2 separate regions of the Homo sapiens genome follow, and region 2 is linked to region 1. Evidence: fine-mapped expression QTL. A gene starts in region 1. The other region holds a variant in brackets. All regions are shown on one strand. Distances are from middle to middle. Region 1 holds the start of GNPAT (glyceronephosphate O-acyltransferase). Region 2 overlaps DISC1 (DISC1 scaffold protein).

Region 1 (2,915 bases):
AGTTAATACAAGCATGGGGTCTGGGGCTAGAATCAGAACCCAGGCTCTGCAAAAATTACCAGTCAGACAACCTGCATCAGGTTTCATGAACTTCTAGTACTTGTTTCTACATCTGCAATCATGGATTTATGACAGTGTCTATTTCATGAAGTTGAAAATTAAATGAGCAAATACACGAAAAGCATGTGCTATATGGCAAGTTCTCAACAGTTTTAACTATTATTCCTACTGTTTAGGTGAACTTAGAATTTTGAGCAGTCATTCCAAAATAAAAATAGCTTTTAAAATATCACGCTGTAAATTTAAGAAATGTGTGTTGTCCTGAAATCTAATGATTTTCTTTGGTGCATGTGCAAAGGGTGTCACCTTCTCCCGGGAAAGCTCTTCAGAGTATGAGGCACTGTCTTCCTACTGACATGCCATGCGACTTTAATAGGCTCTTTTATTTTCCTTTTCCCCCATCAAGACAAAGAACGGAGAGTAAAAGATCAGCGCACTTGTTTAAAAAAAAAAAAGTCGTGAAAAGGACAACTCGCCAAGGACTATGATGTCTCTGGAGAGGGACACACAAGGATGAAGCTGGTGTATTATCCAACAGGCCCGAGGCCCCAGAGCGAAATGACACCATCGCACCAGGGTCAGGCAGGTCTTGGGGGTGGCATGGGGAAAGGGGACTTCCCAGGGCTCAAGAAAACGTGGAAAAGCGGGCTACTTTTAAATCGGAAAGCCTTGGTGCTTCCTACAAGCAAGTAGGATGGTCCCCACACTTGGGGACGAGTTGGAAGGTTTGATGAATAACTCAGCAGAGCCCGGTCGAGGGGTGACTTCCGATGGAGAAATGTGTTCGCTACTGGAACCAGGTGGGACGAAGGGTGCTTGACATGCAAGAACCTTTAGCCTCAAAGCAGAGGCCAACCCAGGACGGGCAACACAGGAGACCCACGTTCCTCAAATCTGTTCTCCACGTGGGCTCCTGGGACCCCGCACTCACCAAAGTCGTAAAGGTTCTGGAGCAGAGCGTCAAGAAGTGTCGGAGAACTGGGAGGCGTGGAGGACCCCGGCCCTTGCTCCTGCGACATTGTGGGGTCAGCCGAGGAATCAACCCTCATTCTGCCGCGCTGCACCCCCGCTTCCGGGTTCCGCGACTGCGCGCATGCGCTGCAGGGCCCTGCGCGGCTTCCGTCCTGGCTGAGATGGCGGCGCCCGGGATCCTGTGTAGCGGCTGCAGAGGGTGCCGCCGCCCTAGGCGAAGTAGGGCCGTCCTGAGCGAAAGAACCGCCCCCAGCAGGAGCACCACCACGGCTTAGCAAAGAATCCCAGACCCCGCCCGGGAAGGCAGCCGCACCATGGAGTCTTCCAGTTCATCTAACTCTTATTTCTCCGTTGGCCCAACCAGTCCCAGCGCTGTCGTGCTCCTCTACTCGGTAGGCGCCCAGGGAAAAGAGGCCCAGAGCGGAGCCGCGCGAAATAGTACCCCTTTCTCCCAGTCCCTATTCCTCCGGCCCACCACCCTTGCCCAAAAGAGCTGGCCCCTAGGCTCCCGAGGAGGGGTTAGTTGGTTGGATTGGTTTCCAGGACAACAGTGTATCGCTGTGTGTCTGTGTGTGCATGCTTTTGGAAGTTTCTACGGATTATGGTTCCTTTGGTTCCTTTCCACTTTTTCCTTCTCTTTCTTTCTATCAGGCCCTGGGGCCTTCAGAAAGCTCCTGGACACGAGAATGAGGAATGAGAATTGGAGTCTCCCCATCTCTAGCGAGGGCATGTCGAGCTACCTTTTGGGCAAACCTGAGAAACTTGCGGGTTTGACCCGCCCTGAGATAGCCTGTGGCTCCGCACCCCGCCCTATGCTGCTGTTATATTCCTGGGAGTAGAGCACTTGGCTTGTATGTGGGAATAGAGTTTTAAACACTTCAGGAAAATTTAGAACTTCTAGACATTTTTATTGCCTGTTCTTGTCTTCCAGTCATTATTGTACCTTTTCCACAAATCATTTTGGAGGACAGCCAGCGCCACCCAGCTTCTCTCCCGCTTGTCTTTTTTTCCTCCAACCCCCTCTTCCTCTCTTGGTTTTAACGGGTCTTTTTGGCTGGCAGATGTTGGTCACCCACGATTTTCATGAAGAAATTATGAGATGGGAGCTTTATAGCCTTCAGGATTGCACAGACCTGGGGCAACTGGTTTGGTTTTTGTTTGTTTCTTGTTGTTTTTAACCACTAAATTAGTTTTTAGCTACTTTAGGAGAAAATGAAAGAATTCATTTTAAAAGCATATTAGCATATCCTGGTGATTACTGTCCAATTTTGGCTTAAATGTAGTGTTCATTTGTGCAGAAAGGTCAAAACAGGGATAACACAGCAGAGCAAGATAAACACCCCAGTTTTGAAAGAGAATATATGGGTTCCTTCAAATTGAGACACCAATATTCTTTGGAACATGGAGAAACTTCTGTTCCCTCTCTATCAAGACCTTTCGGTTTCTGATTGCTAACTGCCTATAAGCCTTATTATTTAGATATATCTCTTCATTGATCTTATCTTCCCCACAGTTCTGTGGTGGATATCAACTTTGTTTTCTGACTCTGCTACTCCAGAGCAGGCACGAAGGGAAGAGGGTTGCTGTGCAGATCCAGCTTTTAACATGTAGCTTTTTAAGCTCCCAACTGGTTTGTGAATTGGTTGGAATTTTCCTTTTGTACATTAAAGGAAGGAGTTGGTTTTGTTTGTTTGTTTGTTTGTTTTACTTCCCCTTTACCAACGGTTCTTTAATAAGACTTGAGTCCACTTTTTCATGTGAAAAACTATGGCAGTTGTATCTGAGCATTCTGTAGTTCTGATGCTGGACAGCAACCCACTCTTTACTGGTAGTTCTCACTACTGTTTTGTGACTGGATAACCTTTACTTCCACGGTAACCTTA
Region 2 (2,915 bases), 560 kb after region 1:
TTTTTCCATTAATTAGTAGCTTGAAGTCAAGAGTCTCTGAAAACAGTATCTTATCCTATCATTAGTGCTTTCAAACACTCCTCTGGATTTGTTATTTTATTTTCACAATTGCTATATTAGGTAGATGGGAGAGAGACCGTGATCCGAATGGACTGATGGGGAGGTTGAGGCTGCGGGATGTGTCCTTTGGTTAAGGTCACTCAATTAGCTAAGCAGTGGCAGATCTGGGGCTAAAGTCCAGGCCCTCTCTCGGTGTATTATATATGGATTTTTAACCCAGTTATGTAATGACAGCTTCAAAAAGTTCTCTGAGTTTTATAGGTTGAATGGACCCAGAGCTCATCAGCTTCAAAAGAATCATAAAAATTTAACAAAAAGTTATAATAATTACATGTATGTGTTTTAAATGGTATTTTAAGAAGGAATACAATAATTGGCAGCTTCTGCTCCTCAGATCATTAAACAACTAATGTTGGCAGCTAAAGAGCAATTTGGTCCCTGGTGCAGTCACGCGTATTATTTACAACCAGTAGAACATGGCAGCGCAAATGTGGGGCTTGGCTCTTAACAGCTTCACATGCCATTTACTTGAAATTATGGGCCCATTTGCTGAGAGAAAAAAAAAGAAGATTGAACACAGTCTTGCTTCTGAGTTAGGGTTTTTGCCTTTCTTAATCAATATATCTTTCCCAGGAATACCGGTGGATGAGTCTGTGTTAAGCCCAAGGGAAGAAATGTATAATTCAGGCAGCAGAGATAGCCTCACTCCAATGTGAACAATCTCTCTTCAGACTCCAGGGAAAATGCCCAAGATGGTATATTGCGTATGGCGCAGGTTTCCTGTTTTAGCTCTTTGGTCAGCTGAGAAAATTGGTGAGGCCTGATCTGCTGAAGGATGACCTGAATTAACCCTCCTGGTAACTGACCTTTTGACCTCACTATTTTCTGGTTGCTCTGTATGCTCTTTGGTGGACCGGCCTTTCAGTCAATGGGCTGTCCCCATAGGTGATACTAGTGTTAAGGTGGTCAACATTTGTTTGCAACTCCTGCATATAATGCTATTTCTGTTTTCTCCTGTTTCAATACCTTCAGAATGGGCAAACCCTCACTCCATTAGGTAAGATTCTTAAAAGCCCTATTGAATGGAAAGGATCTTGGTTTTTTTTTTTTTTTGAGTCAGAGTCTCGTTCAGTCGCCCAGGCTAGAGTGCAATGGCGCGATCTCGGCTCACTGCAAGCTCTGCCTCC[T/C]GGGTTCATACCATTTTCCTGCCTCAGCCTCCCAAGTAGCTGGGACTACAGGCACCCGCCACCACGCCCGGCTAATTTTTTGTATTTTTAGTAGAGACGGGGTTTCACTGTGTTAGCCAGGATGGTCTCAATCTCCTGACCTTGTGATCTGCCCTGAATGGAGAGGATCTTAAGGGAGGTCCTTAAGATTCTTAGGGGGTCTTTTGTCTCTCTTCAAGTTTCTATGATTCGCTTAGATTTATAGACTGATTGATATGGTTTGGCTCTGTGTCCCTACCCAAATCTCATCTCAAATTGTAATCCCCACATTCAAGGGAGGGACCTGGTGGGAGGTGTTTGGATCATGAGGGCGGTTTCCCCCATGCTGTTTTCGTGATAGTGAGTGAGTTATCATGAGATCTGATGGTTTAACAAGTGTTTGGTAGTTCTTCCTGCATTCATTCTTCTTGCCACCTTGTGAAGAAGGTGCCTTGCTTTCCCCTTGCCTTCCGCCATGATTGTAAGTTTCTTGAGGCCTTCCTAGCCATGGGGAACTGTGAGTCAATTAAATCTATTTTCTTTAAAAATTACCCAGTCTCAGGTGGTATCTTTATAGTAGTGTGAGAAAGGACTAATACATCCATCCTGACTTTGATCTATGGCCTGAGGTCCTTTCTTAATTTGAGAACTATTTGCCATTTGCAGAGAGTAGGAATAACAAATTAGTTTCATTTTCAAACCTGGCCAGATCTAGCTCCTTTACATGTAACAGTTTATTCTTTAATTCATCTCTCTTCTCTTGCATTTCATCACAGGCATTGACAGGAGGTCAGTGGGCACTTCTGTATTCTGCCTGGAAATCTCCTTGGATGTCTAACTACAATTATTAGGGACTCTTTTTTATATTGCCTCAGTTGGTAACTGAGTGACTTTTTTGCCACTACAAGGATCTTTTTTTTTCTAGTTTCTGATATATTTTTCTTACTTTTTTCTATCCTTCACGGAGGCCCATGAGGCTTCTGCCTACTACCAAGTCCCAAAACCAATGCCTCGATTTTAGGATTTTGTTACAATAGTATCCCATATCCAGATACCAAAATCTATTTTCATTATCTACTGCTGCCTAATAAAAAATAAGTCACTTTAAGACGTAGTGACTTAAAATATTACCAGTTATTTATTTTGCCCATGGAAATACAATTTGGGCAGGGCTTGGCAGGGACAGCTAGGGTGGCTCAACTGGGGTGGGAGAATCCACACCCAAGACGGTGCATACATATGGTCTGGCTGTTGAGTGCTCTCTATGTGGGCCTCTCTATAGGCAGCTTGGCTTCCTTACAACATGGCTGCTGGGTTCCAAGAGCAAGTGTCCCAAGAGAAAGGAAATGGAAATTTCTTATTCTTAAGGTCTGAATTCAGACACTGGTATGCATCTCTATTAATGTGTAATAAGTGGCTCCTCAAACTTCATAGCTTGAAACAACAAACCTTTATCTCTCACAGTCTCTGAGAGACAGGAGTCCAGAGTGACTTAGCTGGGTGGCTCTGACTCAGGGTCTCATAAGGTCGCTGTTAAGACACACTTTGGAGCTGCAGTCGTCTAAAGGCTTGGCTGGGGCTGAAAGATCTGCTTCCAAACTCATGCATGTGTTGTTAACAGACGGCTTCAGTTCCTTGCCACAAGAGCTG

What was found. PIP is the estimated chance that this variant, and not a neighbour inherited with it, causes the effect.
Region 2: its variant is the best candidate, but not a certain one, in a credible set for the expression of GNPAT in esophagus mucosa (GTEx, PIP 0.84).

Annotation. Positions count from the first base shown.
Region 1 is chr1:231,240,033-231,242,947 of GRCh38, forward strand. GNPAT (glyceronephosphate O-acyltransferase) reads left to right here and starts at 1,180. Exons shown (of 16, transcript NM_014236.4): 1 at 1,180-1,424. The coding sequence starts at 1,347. FSAF1 (40S small subunit processome assembly factor 1) reads right to left here and starts at 1,143. Exons shown (of 7, transcript NM_152379.4): 1 at 992-1,143. The coding sequence starts at 1,109. RefSeq lists enhancers at 873-1,212, 1,193-2,082.
Region 2 is chr1:231,800,664-231,803,578 of GRCh38, forward strand. All of the region lies in intron 8 of DISC1 (DISC1 scaffold protein), which reads left to right. The region is part of intron 11 of TSNAX-DISC1 (TSNAX-DISC1 readthrough (NMD candidate)); the gene reads left to right. Among named protein-coding and RNA genes, the nearest start is that of DISC2, 16 kb to the right of the region's middle. The variant T/C (reference allele first, on the strand shown) is at 1,248.